Linked DNA regions of Homo sapiens. The protein of the gene in region 3 purifies or fractionates together with the protein of the main gene of each other region. This does not show direct contact. Each region holds a gene or a part of one and is shown on either strand. Other genes may lie near its edges.

Region 1 (7,025 bases), on a different chromosome or scaffold from region 3:
AAAAGTCACCCACATGTTTGCCCCACATCACTGTTGTAAAATCTCTTTATCCCCTAACAGAAGCATTAAAAGCAGGTTAAGTATTTCCACCCCTCCTTCCGGATCAGGCTGTAGAGAAGAAAGGCAAATCAGCAAATGGGGCCAGGCACGGTGGCTCATGCCTGTAATCCTAGCACTTTGGGAAGCCGAGGCAGGCGGATCATGAGGTCAGGAGTTCAGGCGGATCACAAGGTCAGGAGTTTGAGACCAGCCTGACCAATATGTTGAAACCCTGTCTCTACTAAAAATAGAAAAATTAGCTGGGCATGGTGGCGGGTACCTGTAATCCCAGCTACTTGGGAGGCTGAGGCAGGAGAATTGTTTGAACACAGGAGGCGGAGGTTGCAGTGAGCCAAGATTGCACCACTGTACTCCAGCCTGGGCAACAGTGCAAGACTACGTCTCAAAAAAAAAAAAAAAAGAAAGAAAAGAAAAGAAAAGAAAGGCAAATCAGCAAATGGAAACACAAGAAGGAAGCCCCAATGTGAATGTCCCCGAGTGTACGCATGATTTCTGTTGGAGGAATTCCTGGCCTGAAGAGACAGCATAAACAAAGGCCATCCAGAGGGAAACAAATGATAAGATAAGTGAAACCCAGCAACTCTCTCTGTCCTCCCCTCTACCTACTTCCCTCAACTTGTTCGTCAGAAAAACAATCTGAGCTTGACAGAATTACAATGTAAGCCTTCCTCTCCCAGCTGCCTCACAGCTCTCATTCTAAGCTAGAGGGTTAAGGGGGGAAGACATGCTTTTCTGTAAGGTCAGTGATGGGGCTCCCAAGATATGGAACTTGGCAGACTGGAGACAGCCATCTCACCCTGCCCACAGAGAAGCCAAAGGAGCAGAACTGTCAAACTGCAATGCAGGGAGTATAGAAAGAAAAGGTAAGGTATGGAAGAAACGTAACTTCAGACACAGCCTGAAAAGAAATTGGGTTAAATATAAAACTATATACATTTTTAAAAACATTTTAACCAGCCCTTAGCAGAAAATATCATAGGCAAGGCAGTTTCCTGCCACAGTTCCTAGAACTTCCATAGTTGGAAGTGTTACCTACTCACAGAATCTCAAGCCCTAAATGGGTCAGAGTATTTCCAGTTTAATCTCTATTCTTGATTTTTAAAAGACGAAAATATAATAGCAGGCCTGTTCATTTAACCTTCTGAGAACATGGTGCGGTCAGTCTCAGCCATTGGCTTCAATTCCAGCATTTATTTATTGCATGTCCTCCAACTTTTAGTTCACATTACCAACAGTGCTGAACAAAGTACCTCTAACGCAGAAATGACTGCCACACAAACAGGATGGGGAAACCAAACAGAAATGGTATTGTTGTTTCTTTTCCACCATCAGCCTAAATCAAATAGCAGCCACTAATAATGAGTTAACTGTAGTTGCATTTGAAAAAATAATTCCCGCGGTGGCTCACGCCTGTAATCCCAGCACTTTGGGAGGCTGAGTCGGGCGGATCACGAGGTCAGGAGATCGAGACCATCCAGGCTAACACGGTGAAACCCCGTCTCTACTAAAAATACAAAAAACTAGCCAGGCGTGGTGGCAGGCGCCTGTAGTCCCAGCTACCCGGGAGGCCGAGGCAGGAGAATGGCGGGAACCTGGAAGGCGGAGCTTGCAGTGAGCCGAGATCGCGCCACTGCACTCCAGCCTGGGCGACAGAGCGAGACTCCGTCTCAAAAAAGAAAAAAGAATTCCAAATGGGTTGCCTTGAACAGAAATGTATGACATTTTCCATATTCACAATTTCACCAACTTTCAAGAATAGAGAATGCAGCAAGTTTCTTCAGTTTAAGCTGTTTCATTTCCTTTAATTTCTTACAATTAGTTTTTTTGTGGGTTTTGTTTTTTTGTTTTGTTTTGTTTTGTTTTTTGAGACAGAATCTCGCTCTGTCACCCAGGCTGGAGTGCAGTGGCAGGATCTCAGCTCACTGCAAGCTCCGCCTCCCGGGTTCACGCCATTCTCCTGCCTCAGCCTCCGGAGTAGCTGGGACTACAGGCGCCCGCCACCACGCCCGGCTAATTTTTTGTAATTTTAGTAGAGATGGGGTTTCACCGTGTTAGCCAGAATGGTCTCGACTTCCTGACCTTGTGATATGCCCGCCTCGTCCTCCCAAAGTGCTGGGATTACAGGCGTGAGCCACCGCACCCGGCCCATTTCTTACAATTAATTTTGTAGTACATTCTGGGGATTTAGAAGGGTCCCTGGTCTAAACCTCTTGTTACAGAACTGCGGGTTCTAACTTGTGTCTAAACATTTCCCTGCTTGGTTTTACCAAATCTCTATGAAACTAATACAAATTTAAGCTTAGGCACATATGAACAATCTATCTCATCTGGTGAATAATGTTGACCACCATCCTTTACTCTTCTTCTTGGGCACAAATATCCAGAACTTTATCTAAGAGTAAGTCCAGAAGTAGCACCCAAACACACATTGATGGCATCTGTCATTCTGCCAAGAAAGGAAAAAGATCAAGGCTATTGGCTTTGGCAAACTTTCAAGAAGCTGCCCCTAGTCCTGACCTAATCTTCACAGGAGGACAACTGTCAGAAGCATACGGTTCCTTAGCAAGCTGCTGGCAGTCTTGCCTCTCACTTACAGGGTTTTCCTACCAGTTCGCTTTAAAATATGGCACCTTTTTTTGCCCTTAGTAGTGATAGCTGTGCACTGATATGTCCACAATGTACAGTCTAGTCCCCAAAAGCATGATTAATTTAAAAAAAAAAAAGATACAGAAAAAATCTGACTAGAATTACAGGTACAGTTTGTGGCTCCAAAACAAGGCAAAGCTAACCCATGCCCTTGACCTGGTTTGTATGTCACTAACAAACTGAGCTAGCCAACAAGCCAGAATATAAGAACCTATCTCAGAAAATAAAAGATGGGCATCTGTATTACCCCAACAATGCCCAAAGCTAGGATCTGGGCTATCTACTCTTGTAAGCCTAAATTCAGGAAGTCTATCAGATAGGCAACATTTTCCAATCACACTGCAGGTATTTTTTTTAGACATAAAAATGACAAAGACCAGTTTAATAGGTGACCTTAATTGTGTGCCAGCAGAAATACAGGTAGCCTTAAAACCCCAATCCTGGTGTAATTTATAGAACAGAATAAACCCAGGTTATTACTAAAGGTGAATGACATACTTAAAAAGTATAACAAGATGAGGCCAGGCGCGGTGGCTCACGCCTGTAATCCCAGCTCTTTGGGAGGCCGAGGCAGGCGGATCACGAGATCAGGAGATTGAGACCATCCTGGCTAACACGGTGAAACCCCATCTCTACTAAAAATACAAAAAATTAGCTGGGCGTGGTGGTGGACACCTGTAGTCCCAGCTACTCAGGAGGCTGAGGCAGGAGAATGGCGTGAACCTGGGAGGCGGAGCTTGCAGTGAGCTGAGATCGCACCACTGCACTCCAGCCTGGGCGACAGAGCAAGATTGTCTCAAAAAAAAAAAAAAAAAAAAAAGTATAACAAGATGAATGATTAAGAAAAAAGAAAAACCTTCTGAAATCAATGTCTGTTCAAAAAATTTTATGATTGTGTAGCCTAATGGCTAACAAGCCTTTTGTTTTCATGTTTCCCTTCCTGGCAATATGCCGTTAAGGCATAGCTTTCCTATTATTTCCTTGTGTTTTAGTCAATTGTCTTCATTAAATATTGTCTAAGTGGCACAATATCTAGTTTTAAGCCAAAAGGAAAAGATCTATTGTAAGTCACGAAATCGCACCAACTGCATTGGAAATTGAACTTGCTTCCCTGGTTTTCCCCATTTAATTCACAACTGTGGCTATGGTTTAAAAGAATAGAAATTGTTTATTTGGCACCAAATTTGCTCCACTGTAAAAATAAATAAAAGTATCTCTTCTGAGGTGGGGGGAAAAAGTTTATTTTAATATCTAAGGCTATCCAATATTAGATTACATGTTTGACTACTGCTCAAGTGTTCATTATTTTCTTTTCAAAAGAGCTTTCACAATGTATGTTAAAAGACTACAGGGAAGAGGGAGGCTGAGAAATTATGGGCCCTCTTAACTCTCAACACAGGCTTCTGTGGCCCTGTTCAGGGTGAGAAGATCTTTTATCAGATGAGGGATTCAACCCAGTGAAAAGTTACCTCACTTAACAAATAAGGTCTAATGCTGGACAGGCTCCAAACAGATTTAGAGTTGTAATATAAGAGCATTTCCTTTTTCAAATAATTTGTCTATCGTTCATACAGCAAAGGAGAGCTCCAAAGTTTTATCATTTAAATACTCAAAAACAACATTTTTAATCTCACACAACATTTTCTGTTCCAGAAAATCAGGCTGTAAGAACCTGTGACATGAAGAAGTCATTTTACTCTCAATTAATCCAGGACTTACTGACCCAGCACTGTCTGAGAATTAAGAGACTCAAAGGAAGCTGTGATTACCCCAACTCGAGTTGCAGAGAAAAGAATAACGTGCCGGAAAGTCAGAAACCAGGCAACATCAGGATGTATAAAGAACTAGACTGCTTGAGTCCCTAACCTGGTCTGCCACTTACAGGCTGTGTGGCCTAAGCTAGGCAAGTTCTTTAACTTCTCTGTGCCTCAGTTTCCTCATCTAGAACATGGCAATAAAAGTATCTATCTTGTATAATTATGTGCAGTCAATGACGTAGCCCATGGAAAGTATTAGAAAGGGCTTGGCATGAGGTAGGCACCTCACATACAATATCGGTATCAAATTAGCTGTAAGTGTTGTGTGGTCAAGCTAAGTGCTTTAAGGAGGAAGGGCAGGGAAGGCTTCGTGGAAGCTGTGGCACCTGAGCTAGATATGAAAGCACAAGATAATCCAGACACTCAGAGGGAAGCACATTCCAGACGTGGACAGCCATTACTGCAGAAAGTCACAGACAGAGTAAAAACCAGGAACGCTTAAACATCAATGAGGAAAACAAGCTCACCAAAGCTGAGGGTGTATTTGGTAACCCCAGATTAATTGGGAGTGATGGGGAAGGCTCTGCACACTTGTTGCTGTGCTTCTAGGACTTAACATTCAGTTCATTTTTAGACACATGTTCTATGTATGCAAACTTGTGGACTATGAATGCAAACTCTCCCTGAAATGCTCTGTTCTCCCCCTGCTCCTAGAACAGTGGAAAGGATACTAAAAAATTAAAAGGTAACCTTTTATTTCTGAAAAAAAAAATCTGCTGGATGAAATATAGGTCACTAAAATCAACTTGAATCTCATGTTCGTCTGTCCCTGTTTCAGTGGGGCTACAAACAAGGTGACAGCTCAGAGAAAGGGGGTGAACTTCAGATCCACACTTCAACGCTGGTCTCTATCAGCAGCCTCAGCCACTCTAAATAATATAATCTACATAAAAGACAGTACACTTGCTAAGTGAATGCATCTTCAAGAGGGGTATCATCCACCCTAGCCTGATCTGTCAACCAGACATTACCTCCAAGCCACATACAGAAATAGAGAAAATGCTCTCAGTACCAGTTTCTTAAATAGTACCTGTGCAATCAATTTCCTCTAAACTTTGAGGGTTTTGTTGTTGTTGTTGTTGTTGTTGTTTTGAGACGGAGTCTCGCTCTGTAGTCCAGGCTGGAGTTCAGTGGCGCAATCTCCGTTCACTGCAAGCTCCGCCTCCCTGGTTCAGGACATTCTCCTGCCTCAGCCTCCTGAGTAACTGGGACTACAGGCACCCGCCACCACACCCGGCTAATTTTTTGTATTTTTAGTAGAGACGGGGTTTCCCCGTGTTAGCCAGGATGGTCTCGATGTCCTGACCTCATGATCCTCCCGACTTGGCCTCCCAAAGTGCTGGGATTACAGGCTTGAGCCACCGCGCCCGGCCTAAACTTTGAGGTCTTGAAACCACTACAACAGATGCTGTGCGTACTTAAGATTGGTATTCACTTAGAATATTACCTCTATTACCAAGTTAGAAATTGTAATACCAAAATAAGTCACCATATTCCTCATCCAAAGAGGAAAAAATCACAACAGAATATAGAACTTCTATTTTGACTGGTGTCCCCTCTAGAGAGAAAACAAGTTTGCTAACCCAAGTTGGACACCTTGCTTTGTTTCCGGCAATATAAGGATAGACTTAACACTGGAAATACCAGAGCACGGCTTGAAGCCAGGGAGGGCCCCACAGCAGTTACAAGCTCTGTGATTATTTCCTGAACCAAACACCTAGGGCACTCAAGGATACCAAGCTTTGTTGGAAAAGCATGTTTCCTCTGGTCCAACAGCTGCAACTTTAAAGTGTTTTCACACAAGACCTCAAGTTTCTCTTTATGCCATCTCCCAAATATTTACAAAATGAAACACTTTCAATCAGAACTTTTGCTTGTAAACACCTTATTTGTTTTAAGGACCATAGTGCCAACACTAAAAGCAGCCTTTTAAACAAAGTAGCTCAAAACCACACACACACACACACACACACACACACACACACACACACACACCCCTTAACAAGCAGAACATGTCCACAAAACAAGAAAGCCAGGATTCAAATTCCTTAGCACCTATTCATGGAGCTCCTGTAAGCACCACCCAAGGATGTGACCCACCACACCCTCTTCATTATCACACCTCCTCACTAATTTACTAATTTATGCTCCTGAAAACCCACAGAATCAGACTACTGGATGGTAACATGTTACAAATATTGGGCAAATGTTCTTTCACATTTCTTTCACATCAACCAGCCTGAAACAACTGATCCTGTTTACGGAACGGCTCTGCCTCAGGTGAGAGGACTATTGTCTCCCAGCTCTTCTGGGAGACACTGGTGGCCTGGCAAAGGCTTCTGGGTATCTTTCTCTTGGTGTCTCTCCCTATTCACGTGTCACACACCTCCTGGGAAGATTATCTGGGCCAAGGATAGTGCAACTGAGAGAAATCTAGAAATGCCTGGTTCAGGGGTAATAAGAAATTGTAACTACAAAGAAACAGTCGATGTGAGTGAATGT
Region 2 (7,444 bases), on a different chromosome or scaffold from region 3:
AGTGGTTATGCTACCTGGTAAGCTGATTTAACTCATATTTAACTGAAAGATATGAGAAATTACCTCATTTAACACGGATATGTCATCTATCTGTAAAATTACTTTAAGTCCTACACAAATGTAGGGCATACTAGATGAAGTAAGAAGACTGAAAAATTAAAACACTGAAGTATTTTCACTCATCACCCTGATAAACATGAAAAAGAATGGCAGTATGCAGTGTTGCCAAGGGTATGAGGAGACAGGCATGTGTCTAGAATGTAGGAATCAGAATATAGTAATGAGAATTAGTATGATCTTTGCAGAGGGCAATTTAACAATAGATATAAAAATCTTCATAACAATAACTCATTCTAGGGATTTATCCTAAAGATATAAATATAAAATATTTGTTCAAAGAGGTTTTATTTAAACTAATGAAAAATGTTAATGTTGTAGAAATATATTTATTAACATAAGCAGTTCACAATTTACTGTAAGAAAAAAAGCAAGCTACAAAACAGTGATTCCATGTTTATATTAAAATAAACATACACAAATTAAAAATTTCCTTAGATATCCATTTAATCTCTGGGATCATAAGCAATGTTTAGGTATTTTTTGCTCATTTATTGCCTAGGTTTTACACAATGAGCATATATGTTAATTGTGTAATTTAAAATTATGGAATTAAGTGCAAGAGTTCCTAACCACCTTTTACAAAACTGTTATGAGAAAATACATTCTAGATTCAAACAAAAACTAAGCAATATATCCCTTATTCTAACAGCTCTAAAATCTGTTCTTCTCATTATACTCCCACCTAAAATCCCACATCCAAAAAGTAGAAATAGCTGCTTCTGAATTCCTGAAAGTATCGGTAGGAGGTTGGGAGGAGAGGGGCCGGGATATGAAGAGAGAAACTGAATATTTGAGGACAGACTGTTCGTGTTTTGAGGGAAACTTTAGGAATAGGGCTTGGCTGAAGGAAGGAGGCTGCGAGGTTCCATGAATAAGTTTCAGCAAAATAGTTTCTCCTCTCACCAGTTTTCCACCTTATTCAGGTGTGCATCCACTGCTACATGCTCCAACCAATTGCTGTTGAGACCCCAGAGACCCCAGCACCACGTGTGATTAGGAAGCGCTTCCATCATTGAAATGGAATAGAGTCTACTTGCTCACAGTAACTCCTGTTTCTATTCCTTTGCTCCTTCCTTAGCAACTTCAGGTCTTTCTTCAGTAAAATTTTTTGCTTTGTAAACCTATTTTTTTTCACCTCCTGTAACATGATATGCTGCCCTTCTACGACCTTTGACATACCAATCATCTCCATCTGAAATACTTCTATCCCTTTCCCAACCCTATCTTGACTAATTTATTTCGTACTCATTTTTATTTTCATTTAGGTGCCACTTCCTCAGGGAATCCGTGAACACAGTGTCCATAACAGATTCCTTCAAGACTTTATCTCAATTAACAAATATATTTTATGCATTATTTAGTAAGGCTATCTACTATCTAGTTGAACCATTAAGTCCCAGGCTCAATGAAAACAGTGCCATTAGCTGGTTTTGCTCAGCATGGTTACTCCTGCATTTGGAACATAGCAAGTGCTCAACAAATATACGCCGAATGAGAGAATGAATGAATGAACAACTGAGTAAACAACTAGCAACCGAGAGGCTTGGTGGGGTAAGAATTACATTAACTATGTCACCTCATGGTGGAACTGTGCACATTTTTTCTTTTGATGGCGGACTTGTGTACTGACAAGACAAAGTTTTAAATAGATACGATTTTGGAAAGTTCCCTTTAAAGCAAAGCCATACAATAAATATTTAATCAGCCAAGAAAAAGGCTGTAGTCTAGCCTGGGGACTTCACAAATGACCCAAATCATGAGAGCCACGTCTCTACAGTGTCTTAGTACTGTATCTTCCTTGAGCAAAGGAACGCACTTGCCCCATCATGGCAAGTTCAGGTACAGAGTGCAAGGAATCTACAGCTTTCCTACCCCGACACAGGTTTAGGTAGGAAAACGCGAGCCTAGGATGATGGGGAGAAAGCGGGCATTTATTCAAAATGTATTTACTGAGCACCTACTGTGTACCAGAAAGCCCTAGTTGTGGGCTGGCTCTGACAGGTCCGCTGTGTAGCTTCGGGCATTTCTCCTTCACAGAGCCCAAGTCCTGAAGGCGAGCAAGTGGGGCCCCGCCTGCCTGCCTCAAAAAGCTGGGCTGGGGATTCCAAGGGCGAGAATGCGCTTCAGAAAGTGCCAGGAGGCACGAAGGCCAGCGGCCCCAAACGGCCTCGCTAACCTCGGCCCGGGCGCGGGGAGCGAGCCCAGGACGGCCGTCCGCTGGCAGCAGAGCCGGGCGGAGGCGGGCGCCCGCCCTCCGAGGGGCCGCGCTTACCCGTCGGGCGAGTACTCGAGGTTGAAGACGGCGCCGTGGGTGCGGGTGCTGAGGTACACCGAGTCCGCGGGGTGGATGGAACCGTAGAGGCTAGTCATGGTGCGAAAATTGTCCCGCGCCGGGTCCACGAACAGCCCGCGGCCCAGGCTGCGCTCTTTCAGCCACCCGAACAGCCTAGCGCCAGGGCCGCCCAGGCCCGCGCCGAGGCCGTGTCGGCCCCGGCTCTTGGCCCTGCAGTCTGGCCCGGGCCGCCGGCACGGAGGGGAGGGAGGTGACGGCTCTCCCGGGGCGGAGGCAGTTGAGGACTCCGGAGCTCCAGGCAGCCCTAGCTCTCCGGAGCGCGGGGCCGGGGACAGCGATGGGGCGCCGGGGCGGCGAGGGCTTCGGGCGGGTGGAGGGGGATGGGTCGCATCAGCCCCGGGATGTAGTGGCGAGGGCGGCCCGGTGGCTGCTGCCTGCCCCTCGTGGGGCGTCGGCTCCTCAGCCCCGGCTCCGGCCGATCCGTCCCCTCCAGGGCTATGGGGCCCAAAGGGAAACATGATCAACGCCCCCGCCCCCCGCTCCGGGCCACTGCCCCGCCGGCCGACACCTCAGTGCCCCTGTTCAGCTGCCACTTCCGGCGTGCAGCGGCCTAACCCCACCGGCTGGAAACCCGCGCCGCCCCTCGGCCACCGTCCGCCGGGGACCGGGAAAGCTGAGACACCGCCGGGTTTGGGGCGCCGCAGTCCCGGGAACGGAGGTAGGGAGCGAGTAGTTACCTGTGTGAGCGACTGAGCATCTGGGCACCTGATCTGGGTGGCAGAGTCGGTCTGTAGTTGTCAGTGACCGGTGGCCGCGTGCCTGGGGATGAGTGGCCTGACCAGTCAGTCCTGTGAGGCTGAGTATGTACTGGTGTCTCCACTTTACACTGGGATCAGCGAGGGATTAAGAATTAGTGCATTACGTGCAGGCCACACACAATAGGTGACATGCCACTCTTTTTTTTTTTTTTTTTTTCCGAGATGGAGTCTCGCGCTGTCGCCCAGGCTGGAGTGCAGTGGCGCGATCTCGGCTCACTGCAACCTCCGTCTCCCGGGTTCAAGCAATTCTCTGCCCCAGCCTCCCGAGCAGCTGGGATTACAGGCGCCCACCACCACGCCCGGCTAATTTTTTGTATTTTTTAGTAGAGATAGGGTTTCACCATCTTGGCCTGGCTGGTCTTGAACCTCGTGATCCACCCGCCTCGGCCTCCCGAAGTGCTGGGATTACAGGCATGAGCCACCGCGCCTGGCCAGCATGCCCAACTCTTAAAGGCACAACAAGTTCAGGGTGACCACAGGCAGCTTCTTCCAAAACCTATTTGTCACAAGGCAAAGGAGAGACTGAGAGGAAACAGGTTTGGATGTGCTACCCAAGGAATGGCTGAGATAGCCAGTCTGTGTATCTGGGCTTAAATGAAAGATGGCAAATAGGTGATAGTTACTTTTCTGGGTCAACTTGACTGGGCTAACAGATGCCCAGATAGCCTGGAAAACCATTATTTCTGTGTGTGCCTGTGAGGGTGTTTCCAGGACAGATTAGCATTTGAATCAATAGAAGATCTGCCCTCACCATTGTGGACAGGCATCATCCTATTCATTAAAGACTGAAAAGGAACAAAAAGGCAGAAGGGTGATTTAACTTTCTCTTAAGTTGGTACATCCATCTCCTGCCCTTAGACATCAAAACTCGGTTCTGCGGGCTTTGGACTTGGGGACTCATCGTCAGTTTTCAGGCCTTCAGTCTTGGACCGGGAGTTATACCATTAGCTCCTCTGATTCTCACACCTTCAGACTCAGACTGAATTACACCACCAGATTTCCTGGTTCTCCAGCTTGCAGACTGCAGATCATGGGACTCCTCTACAATGATATGAACCAATTCCCATATTAAATGTTCTCTTATATCTATATCTCCTATTGGTTCTACTTCTCTGGAGACCCCCTGGATGGGTCCAATCTACTGTAGCAGCCTACTTGCCTGGCATTCACACTCTTCATGTGTATGCCAGCACGTATATTCTACTGAACCCATCCTAGAAGTCCTAGGCTGTCGAATTTTGTAGCTGTTACTTAGCTTTCCTTGCCTACTAGCCGGGGTAGGACAACTATTTGAGTAACCAGGCTATAGATTAGCCACTGGTCCATGAGGCTGCCAGACCAAAAGTCTTTGCCCATACAGACTCATGCTCTTGGGAATTTGAATTGGGAAATCAGAAGTGAGGCAGTTGGCCATGATGGTTGGGATTGAAAAGTCATAAGGCAGAGTGAGGCCGCTGGAGTCCTGAGCAAACCAAAGGAGTAAGAGAAATCATGAGAAAGCAGCAGCCATGAGAGAACAGACTTGGGATAGACGGTGAGAAAGAAAGTTGATGGTAGGAGGAGATACAGATACATAAAAAGAGACAGACTCAGAACAGGTTAGACTTGTTCTTGGCAGAGTCCCCCTAGGGTCTTCCTGCAGAGTCCCTTGAGGTACCAGAATGATGGCTGCTCAATTTCAGTTTCAGTTTCCTGTGGGATGATCACTTGATTTCACAATACCTGAACCAGGACTTATGCACTGACAAAAAGAATCAAGGGCCAGACACAGTGGCTCACACCTGTAATCTCAGTGCTTTGGGAGGCCAAGGTAGGAGGATCTTTTTTTTTTTTTTCAGGGTCTCACTCTGTTGACCAGGATGGAGTACAGTAATACAGTCATGGCTCACTGCAGCCTCAACCTCCCAAGCTCAAGCAGCAGGAAGATCTTTTGAGGGTAAGGAGTTTGAGACCAGCCTGGGCAACATCATGAAACTCTGTCTCTCTATGAAAAATAACAAAATCATTCCGGTGTGGTGATGCATGCTTGTAGTCCTAGCTGCTCGGAAGGCTGAGCCAGGAGGATCCCTTGAGCCCAGGAGTTCAAGGTTACAGTGAGCTGTGATCACCCTGCACTTCAGCCTGTTGCACTTCAGCCTGAGCAACAGAGTGAGACCCCATCTCAAAAATTAAAAAAAAGAATTGGCACTTTGGGAGGCCGAGGCGGGTGGATCATGAGGTCAGGAGATCGAGACCATCCTGGCTAACAAGGTGAAACCCCGTCTCTACTAAAAATACAAAAAATTAGCCGGGCGCGGTGGCGGGCGCCTGTAGTCCCAGCTACTCTGGAGGCTGAGGCAGGAGAATGGCGTGAACCCGGGAAGCGGAGCTTGCAGTGAGCCGAGATTGCGCCACTGCAGTCCGCAGTCCGGCCTGGGCGACAGAGCGAGACTCCGTCTCAAAAAAAAAAAAAAAAAAAAAAAAAAAAAAAAAGAATTGGAATGACAACCAAGAAAACAAATGTGTCCTTTCAACCAGGGAGCCTTCTGTAGCCCAAAGAAAACAATGTACTCAAGGAGTAAAGTGATCCTATCATATAAGCTTATTGAAAAATAAAAAGCAAACATTCATATAATGTTTAGTGTATGCCTAATATTATGCTGAGTAAAGTGATCCTATCATATAAGCTTATTGAAAAATAAAAAGCAAATGTTCATATAATGTTTAGTATATGCCTAATATTATGCTGAGTTAAGTGATCCTATCATATAAGCTTATTGAAAAATAATAAGCAAACATTCATATAATGTTTAGTATGTGCCTAATATTATGCTAAGCTGGTTCATATATATTAACTCAAAACTCAAGGTATGTTGGTACGATTATTATCCCCATTTTAGAGATGAGAAAACACAGACACAAAAAAGAAAAGTCAGCCTGAGAGTGGTAAAGCCAGGATTCAAATCCAGGCAATCTAGCTCCAGGTTCCATGCTCGTAACCAGGTGCTACACACACATTTGTAGATTGGCTTGGATCTATAGCTATCGCTGTACATACAAGCTCCTTGCCAAGGATGGCAACTCAATAGTATTTTTTAAAAACCTCCAAATCTAAGCCAATCTACAAATATCAGGTCTGGCTCCCCTTTTCTTCTGAACACTTTTAAATTCTGAACCTTTGAATAACTGTAATCCCATGAAAAAGAACAACTTCCATTTGTTGAGTAAGTGCTTCACCAGGCTTATTGGTAGGAGCTTTGCAAGCATTGTCTCTAAATTTCCCTTTACTGGGGGCAGCCATAACTTGGCAACTACGAGGAAATGCAAGCTCAGTATTGCCACAGCTACAGATTTTTCAAAAAATGCCACATGTGGAAGTTCAAAATGAGGCCTGCTGTGGGCTCAATGATGCCACAAGAAATAGGACATAGGATGATATACCTAACACAGCAAGGAGATGCCTTGTGTGGCCATCAGTAGATCTTTGAGAAAAGACAGAGTCACTCTGTTTTACAGGCGTGAGCCACTGTGCCCAGCCTCATATTCTCTTTATTTAAGAAGATACCGGAGGTTATGGACCTCTAGCAAAATGGACAGGTAAAGCAAGAAAGTGGAATAAAAGTGATCTAAGTGGATCTAAGAAGGAGAGCAGTGCAGGAAGGTATAAAAGACAGGTGTACAAAAAGGGAGGGAAATATGACACATGCTACAACGTGTATGAACCTTGAGAATATTATGCCAAGTGAAATCAGCCAGTCACGAAAGGATATATATACTGTATGTTTCCACTTCTATGCAGTACCTAGAGTCGTCAAATTCACAGAGACAGAAAGAAGAATGGTGGATGCCAGGCACTAGGGTGAGGTGGGGATGGGGAGGTATTGTTTCATGGGTACAGAATTTCAGTTTTGCAAGATGAGAAGAGTTCTGGAGATGGATGGTGGTGATGGCTGCACAACAGTATGAATACACTTAACACTGTGTATGTACTGAATGTACATGTAAAAATTGTTAAGATGATAAATTTTGTTATGCATATTTTACCACAATTAAAGAAAAGACAGCTGTGCAGCAGGCCTGAAGAGCAGCCCCCCCAAAGTGGGAGGAGCACAGAGTGGGAAGTCTCCAGAGGAAAAATGGAAATGGAATGTTGCAATCTATTAAGGCGAGGCAAAAGACTCCAATGCCAGAATAGTGGAAGAAATTAACAAAGTATATAGAATAACAAACAATG
Region 3 (7,852 bases):
GGCAGGGGGTTGTGGATGAAAACGTGTTCCACGTGCTGTGGATTTCTTCATCCATGTAAGGGTCTGTCCCTGTGTGCCCAGAACATCTGGGCCTAGGGTGGCAAGAGTCTCCTGAATTCCACCAACACTGAGTCCCAGCTACAAGCAAGGGCCTGCTGGAGGCTGAGGAGTAGGATACAAGACAAACGCTGCACAGCCCAAGCCCTGCAGATCCCATCAGTGCAGAAACCCCCCAACCCTACCACCCCTCCCGAGGCCTGATCCTCTCTCTCTCGCAGCTCCCTGCTTTGCCCATACCACACACCTGGCCTCCTGCTCCCGCTCTGCTTCCCCTCAGGTTCTGCCCACGGTCTCCCTACCCACTCCTGGCTATAGATTCAACTCAGTGGTGACCTGGACGGCCCTCTTCCAGCTCACAGCAGGGAGGCGACAATTTGACCTTCTGTTAATTTTGCTGGCAGATGGAAGGACAAAGTTCTGGGATGGGGACACTTGAGCAAAGACCTGGGGGTAAGGAAGTTGTTAATTTTCAAATCAGGGCTAGATTGTAGCCTCGTCTCACCTATCTGAGCTTCCCAGGAAATCCCTGGGACAGGTGTCATTGCTGAGTCAGGATGGGCACAAGTTAGGGGAGGAATATAGAAGGAGTTGAGGTCAGAAAAGTCAACATTCAAGGTGATCACCTCCATTACCCACCTCTCCTTGGTGAGGAAACTGAGGCCCAGAGAGGCAACTTGAATACCTAAGGTCACACAGCAGATGGTGGCAAAGCCAGGCGGGACCCTCAGCCCCTTGGGTTTTGTTTCTCAGGCATTTGTCTTGTACTTCTGCTCCTAGAAATGCTTAGCACAGGGACCGGGGTTCATTTTGAGACAGAGGGAGAAGATTAAAAATAAAACGCGTGCCGGGTGTGCCTTTCTGCTCGTTCACTTTGCTTCTTTTCAGCTAAAAGAAGAGTCTCGGGCCTGGCTATTTATAACTAACCCAGATCTGCGATGGCTTGCTCAAGTGGGGGTGGGGCACACAGACCCCAGGGAAACAATCGGGGAAATCCACCCAACTGGGCGGCAGCCTGAGCGTCCGCTGGGGGTGGGGGGTGGTTGCAGAAGAGGTAGGACAGGTGGGGCACAGAGAATCAGCCAGATGGGGTGGCACCAGAGCAGGCCAGGCTCTGGGCCATCCATGGTTTAGAGACAAGCAACATATGCCCACCCCACCCCCGGGAAGTGGGAAAACTAGTGGAATAGTCAGCTGGGGACAGGTCACTACAGAACAGGTTGACATGTGTGTAGACCAGGAATTCCAGGGTCCTAGGGGCTCTGGAGGTGCACAAAGGGAGGCCCCGGGGAAGCTGGTTCTCATGGATGTGGAGGAGAGCCCAGAACAGCAGGGCTCAAATGTATGTGTTTGTGGGGAGTCCCCGATCTGGCCTGGCTGATATGTAGGGGCTAGGATGGGTTCAGTGGTTGATGAGCCAAAGAGATCCAATGGGATTGAGGGGTCACGGATGTCCATGGTGTGGAGCCCCAGTGGTGGAGTCTGGGTCATTTTCTTTGTGGTGGGGCAGGGCGGGTGCTGACACCATGTTGAGGGGCCACTCCTCAGCCAGCTGTGCCTGCTGGGTTGGGGAGGTGCTGAGTGGGCTCAGTCACCACCATGGCCCCCTTCCTCTGGCTACAGCAAAGCCCCAGCTGTTGTCTCCCAGCCAATGAGGGCTCAGGACAGAGCACCAGCACCCAGGTTCTGGTCGCAGCCACACCCTTTCCTGTTAGGGGACTGCACATCCACACATGGCATCTGGGGCCCACCTTGCCGCAGGTGACCCACCTGTCCAGCTTTAGCCTTGCATGGCCCTGTGCCCTGAACTCCTGGCCCACTGGGCCTGCCTTTGCTCCAAGGGGTGCTTCTCTGTCCTCAGCTTTCTCGGCTTCCAGGTAGCTGGGAGCATGGTTAACAGCTTCTTCCTTTACCACATGCTCTCTTCCCGTGCCTCTGGTACCCTCCATTCTCTGGTTCCTGACCACCTCCCCAACTGCTCCTCCATCTTTTTGGTAAGCACCATCTCTTCCTCCAGTGGTCCCCACCCTCTCCCCTTCTCTCATCTCCCTGGGTCCTGATAATGCCCCGCCACTGTCTCCTAACATGCTCTTGGTCTCCCTGCCATCTCACAGCCACAGCAGACCGTACACTGAACTCAGCCTCACAGACTGACTTCTGTGCTCACTCCCACTTCCTCTGGACTGACTAACTGATGTTTTTGTTATTTTATTATGTCCAGTAGGACAACTCACATTGTCTGTGGGACCACGCCTACTGTAAACAGGCAATTAAAAACTTCTCCTCCTCCTTCTCAAATTTAAAAGACTAATGTTAAAACTCTCGAGCAGTTCTTAGGCCAACGTCCCTGATCCTACTGCCCCAAGCTGGCATCTGTGCATGGGCAACGACCCTGGCCCCAGCCACACTGGTCTTCTCTGGGTTCTTCCTGGCCTCGTGCTCCTTCATGTCCTGCACCGTCCCCGCCTTGGAACTCACTTCCCTCCCACCCTATGTCACTGGCCACCTCCACGCCTGCTATGGCCTCATTCCAAGCATCTCTTCCTTTGGGAAGCTGGCCCAATGCCCAATGCTCCCCCACTCCACATGCCCCCAGAGCCCCAGTGGGTCTCCTCAGATAGCCTCACATGACTGTAAGGCCCAATCGTTGTTTGCTTTCTGCCCCTGCCCTACAGGCAGAGGGTCTGCCAGAAAAGGGCCGGTCTGAATCCTAGAACTGTGCCTACAACTATACCCTGGTGGAGGAGGCTATCTGTAAGTGACTGCTGCATGAATACAATATTGGTTTGATGCCAGGTGAGATGTCCCTCTCTTACTTTGAGGTCAAGTCAGGGAGGTGTCAGCCAGCCCCAGTGGACCCCTCCGCAGGCTAGCCTCTGCTCTGGACCACTGGAAAGGGCCATCTCACTGTTGCATGTGGGCTTACCTCTGCAAACAATTCAACTCTGACCCCCAGACTCTGCAGTGGAAACAGCCTCTGGCTATCCCAAGACATGCTAATATGCATTTCCTATAAACATTAACCCTCAGAGCCACCCTCTGACCACAGTCTGTTACATTCCCTTTTGACAGAAGAGGAAACAGAGGCTCAGCCAGGTAGCACAGCTGCCGGTCTCTGTGTGGTCCTCCTGGCAAGAGGTCCAGCCTGACACAGCCTGGTGGTGTGGAAGGCAAGCACAAAGGGTAGCTAGCCCCTCAGCCATTGGCTGAATTCCCTTGGTCCTCACTGGACACCTCCAGTGAGCACTAAGTTCGCCTCCATGATGCCCATAACAAATATACGTCCTGTTCCTGACAGTTGAGGCAGCACCCTCACAGGTGGCCCATGACCCTGCAGGTACGTAACGCAATGGTCTCCATCTCACAGAAGAGGAAACATTCCTAGGGAGGTTATGGGATGATGCTGAGATGCCACAGTGTCCAGCTGGCAAAGCCAGGCACATGCCCCTGCCCCTCCACCACAGAGCTATGATGGAGAGACCGCTCCATGGACCTCTGCCATGGTCAGGTCCAGGGCTGCTGCTCAAAGAATGGCATGATCCACACCTTACAAAGGTGTGAGGTGATAAGGAACGCGTTAGCTGGGAAGGCATTTGCACTTTGTCAGGGATGCTCTAGGATACACAAAGCTTCAGATTTACAAAGATGGAGAAGAGAGACAGGAGCATTCATGTCTTGGCCCTCTGGCTTGAGAGTCTTTTAAGCATGGAACTGAGGGACTCCTGGCCCTGAGGTCCACAGATAGGCTTTGAAATTGAAAACAGAATTTTGCAGCCTGGGTTCAGCTGCGTTTTGCTGAGGGTCTGATGCTTTCCACCAGCTTCCCAAAAGCGCCAATCAGTGGCCTTAACTGAACTGGCTCTCTCACGCTTGTCTGGGCTGGGGGCCAGCTCCTCGGTCCTTCTCCCTTCCTTCCCTCCCAAGGCCACCCTTCCGTGTGCCAGGATTGCCAGGGACGCCAAAGAGCCCCTAGACACTGGGCGGTGGCGGCGGGGGGCGGCGGCAGAGATGACTAATGCTCCCTCCCATCGCTGCACAAACCTCACCGGTGTAAATCGTTAGGGTTTGCATAGGCCTTTCACACGTTCTGAAGGATTGGTGAGACAATCCAGGAAAGCAGGTGCCACTAGCCCCACTTTGCAAACAGAAAGGCTGAGAGAGGTCAGTCGGTTGCCCAAGGACGTAGAGCTCACAAGAGGCCGAACTGGGTTTGAACCCGAGTGGAGAGAAGGCGAGCCGGGACTGGCTGCAGTAAAGAGGGCCAGGACCATGGCTGGGCTCAGGCTTGGTTTCCCGGGCTGCCAGAGGTGGCCCCTGGGGCTCGGCTACCAGGCCTCAGCGCAGCGGAGTCGGTGGAACGCCGGCGCGGGGAGCTCTTGCGGGACTGCGGCGCGCGCGGAGCTGCGACCCCGCCCCTGTCCGTCCCCATTGGGCTACTGGCCCGTCCGTCAGCTGCCTGTGCCCAATGGACAGAGGGCCGGCGCTCGTGGCGGGGCGGAGGTGCCCGGCGCGTGGTGCCCGGCGGGCGCGCGGCACCCCCCCGCCCGCGGTTGGCCTGGCAACGGGCTGCGCTCGCGGCTCCGCCCCCTGCCGGCGGCGGCGCGGCGCGGGGCGGGCGGACCCGCGGACTGGCGGCGGGCGGCGGGCGGCGGGCGGCGCGGGAGGGCGGGCGGAGGGAACCAGGCCGGCCGGAGCGTGTGCGCCGCCCGCGGTCCGGTCACGTCCCCGCGTGGGCGCCGCTGCCCGCGTCGTACGGAACGAGGGCGCCGCGGCCCCGTGCTCGCCGCCCCGCCCCGCCCCGCCCTGCCCGGAGCAGCTCGGCAGATGCTCTGTGCTGCGGCCCGGAGGTGAGTGAGCCGACCCGCGGCCGGCCGCGCGCCGCTGAGCCTCAGGGGTCGGGGGCACGGCCGGGGCATCCACCTTGCCCCCACTTGGGACTCTTCCCAGGCCTTTGTGCCCCGGATCCGCCAGGACGCAGCGTCAGGGATGCCCCTCAGGGGTGGGGGACACCAAGGGCGGGGACGCCTGCGAGGTGGGCAGGGGGCGGCCTCTGGTCGGGCAGGTGCTGGGGGAGGGATGCGCCGCCAAGCCGATGACCCCGCGGGAGGGGGCGGTTGAGGACCCGGGAGGGTGGACAGAGGGCGCCGGGGATGCCGCGCGGGGCCGCCGGGCGCCCCCAAGCAGCGGCTGATGCGGAGCCCGGGCGGGCCAGGCGAGCTGCGGGAGCGGCGCTGAGGCGGGTCTCCCTAGGGGGAGGATCAGGGAGGGGCGGCCGGAGCCGATGCAGGGCCTTGCCTGAAACCGAGGAGAGGGCCCCAGAGGCCTGGGCCCGAGGACCTGGGCCCGCAGACGGACAGCTAGCAGTTCTCGGTCACTGCTCTTGCAGCGAGCAGGTTCCTCACAGGCATTTAGAGGAAGAGATGAGTATCGACCTGCTGCGATTGTAATACGTTCCCGGCTCAATATTTTTTCCCTTAAAAGGCGGTGGGGGTGTTTGGGGGAGGGGAGTGAGGGCCTCAGGGCTGGCGCTCCGTATCCTGCGGGCGATCCGAGGGGGCTCTGCCTTTAGGGCGGTGCTGAGCCTTCCTGGGTGATGATGGCAGGATTCGGCCTAGGCCGAGAATGGGGGCTCCTGTTAACTGAGACAAGAGGATGATGCCAAGCGAGACCAGCGTTCCGCGTAGTCCGTGTTGGGGTGGAGGGACCCGCCTGGTAGAGAGGTCTGTCTTGCTTGGGGAGACAGCTGAGCCCCTGACCGGCTCCTTTCTGCCCAAGTGATTTCCCTGCCCTGGGGATTGAGCTCTCTGGAGAAGGCTCCTTGGCCAAATTCAATTAAGCAAATATTTATTGAGTGGTCACTCCCCCAGAGCTTGACGCTGGGGTGCACCGGGTGGGAGTGGACTGGGCCTGCCCTCCCAGGACTGATTGACCACCGCATAGGGGAAAACGTCTCTACTCGACCAACCCCGCTTGAGTGCAGGTGCAGGGGCCTCGGGAGGGACCTCAGAGTGGTGTCCTGGGCTGGGGGGTCAGGTGAGCTCGTGGGCAACATGACATTTGAACTGGAGCTTGAAGGACATGGGCACAGCTAAGCTGGGCATTGTGGGCAGAGAGGAGAGAATAGACCGAGGCACTTGGGCAGTTAGGTCTGATGGGAGCACTTAGCATGCCTGGGGAGTAGGAGGAGGTATGGCGGGAAAGGCCGGTGGGGGCTGCACGGGGCTGAGGGAGCTGGGAAGTGGAATGACCCCACTGCTGGTTAACTGTGGCTATGGTGGAGACCACGGCTTCCTCATCTGTAAAAGCGAAGCAGTTCCATGACCCCATGAGCTGGGGTGGGCCTGGAGAAGAGCTAGCTTTAAAGACTGGGGAAGGCTCCTTGCAGTCTGAGACTGTGCTTCCAGGCACTTCTCCCTCGGGCACAGCCAGGGCACTGGGTAACCACCCAGGCAACCCCCTTGTTAGGATTGAGTTGCCTGTTTCGGGGATGATGCTTAGCTAGTGACTCTGTGCCTCTGGGATGTGGATGTTTGAGAGCAGTAATCGTGGCAGCCTGGGAGCATCCATCTACGGGGTGCAGTGGGGGTGTGGATGGCCTGGCGGTGCTTGGATAAAATATGCGCCTTGAGCAAGCCTCATTCTCTAGGAATGAGGAGATGCTGGCATCTGGTTTAAAAGTCTTCCTGTGTGTTCCTCTAACTGACGTTGATTTTCTGAGACAGGAGGTGAATAAGACATAATTTCTCCCCCTCGGAAATTGGTGTCACTTTCCCCCCTAAGTCAGCTCCCTCATTTCTGGGGATGTTTTTGCTCTCCCTCTGAAGGGGCTGTTTGTTACTCATCTTTGTAGTGTGCCTACCCTCCCCACCCAACACACACTTGGCTTTGGCCAAGGCCCAGGTTGATGCAGCGAGAACAGGGCCTGCCCTCGTGGGGTGTGCAGTCTGTGCTGAGCAGGGTGAGCTGCTGTGCTCTGTGCCTGTCGCCTGGACTGTTGCAGGGACCTGGCATGTGACTGTGGGTTTGGGACACAGGGAATGGATTCTTCCCTCTGTCCCCAGCCTCTCAGTCCTTTTGTTTTCTAGAATCTCAGGAGGAACCTCAGAGACCTGGAGGCCCCACCAGAGTGGCCAGAACCTGGTGCAGGAGTATGGGTGGGGTCTCAGTCTGGCCCTCAGGAGCTTCTAGAACAATTCCAGGAATTTGCAGGTAACTGGATTGACTTCACAAGGGCTGCCCAGGGCCCCCGCAGAGAGGCCAGTGGGACAGGAATGCTGAATATAGCAATTCAGGAATGCTGAATTTAGTCATCTTGTGTGTGAACACATGTGTGCGGCTTCCTCCCCTGGAGGCAAGGAAGGCAGCCCTGTGCTGTCTGTCCCACGCTAGCCTCAGAATACTTAAGACGGTGTGTGGTGGCAAAGGCACTCTCACTGCTGCTGACCATGGCAGGTGCACGGGCACACTGGAGGAGGCAGGTCAGCATGCTGCTCTCCCGAACCCTCCAGCAAGGAAACCTGGGGTAGCCAAGCCTCTGAGCACCTGTGAGCACTGTGCTTGGCTGGAAGGAGCACAAAGCGAAATGAACAGAGGCGTCAGTGCAGATGCCAAGGGTCAGCCCCAGGCAGAATCCCAGAGCAGAGGCTATGCTGCGGCCTGGGCAGAATGAAGAGGGACGTGGGAGCACCCAGACTGTTGTGGCTCCGGGGTGGTGAGGTGAGCATTCCAGTCTAGGTGGCAGAAGACCTGGAGTCAGGTCCTGGTCCCACCATCCTAGGTCCAGCCCCTTTTTCTC

The links.
Region 1: the proteins of GNAZ (region 3) and DAAM1 purify together in Homo sapiens (affinity purification with mass spectrometry; 3 studies listed by BioGRID and IntAct, with this or other methods). This does not show direct contact.
Region 2: the proteins of GNAZ (region 3) and DCAF10 purify together in Homo sapiens (affinity purification with mass spectrometry; 3 studies listed by BioGRID and IntAct, with this or other methods). This does not show direct contact.

The regions. Positions count from the first base shown.
Region 1 is NC_000014.9:59,191,643-59,198,667, reverse strand, and holds part of DAAM1 (disheveled-associated activator of morphogenesis 1), read right to left. Parts: intron 1-7,025. UniProt on the Homo sapiens protein: Binds to disheveled (Dvl) and Rho, and mediates Wnt-induced Dvl-Rho complex formation. May play a role as a scaffolding protein to recruit Rho-GDP and Rho-GEF, thereby enhancing Rho-GTP formation. Can direct nucleation and elongation of new actin filaments.
Region 2 is NC_000009.12:37,796,354-37,803,797, reverse strand, and holds the start of DCAF10 (DDB1- and CUL4-associated factor 10), read right to left. Parts: upstream 3,002-7,444; 5' UTR 2,932-3,001; coding exon 2,393-2,931; intron 1-2,392. UniProt on the Homo sapiens protein: May function as a substrate receptor for CUL4-DDB1 E3 ubiquitin-protein ligase complex.
Region 3 is NC_000022.11:23,065,667-23,073,518, forward strand, and holds the start of GNAZ (guanine nucleotide-binding protein G(z) subunit alpha), read left to right. Parts: upstream 1-4,852; 5' UTR 4,853-4,904; intron 4,905-7,852. UniProt on the Homo sapiens protein: Guanine nucleotide-binding proteins (G proteins) are involved as modulators or transducers in various transmembrane signaling systems.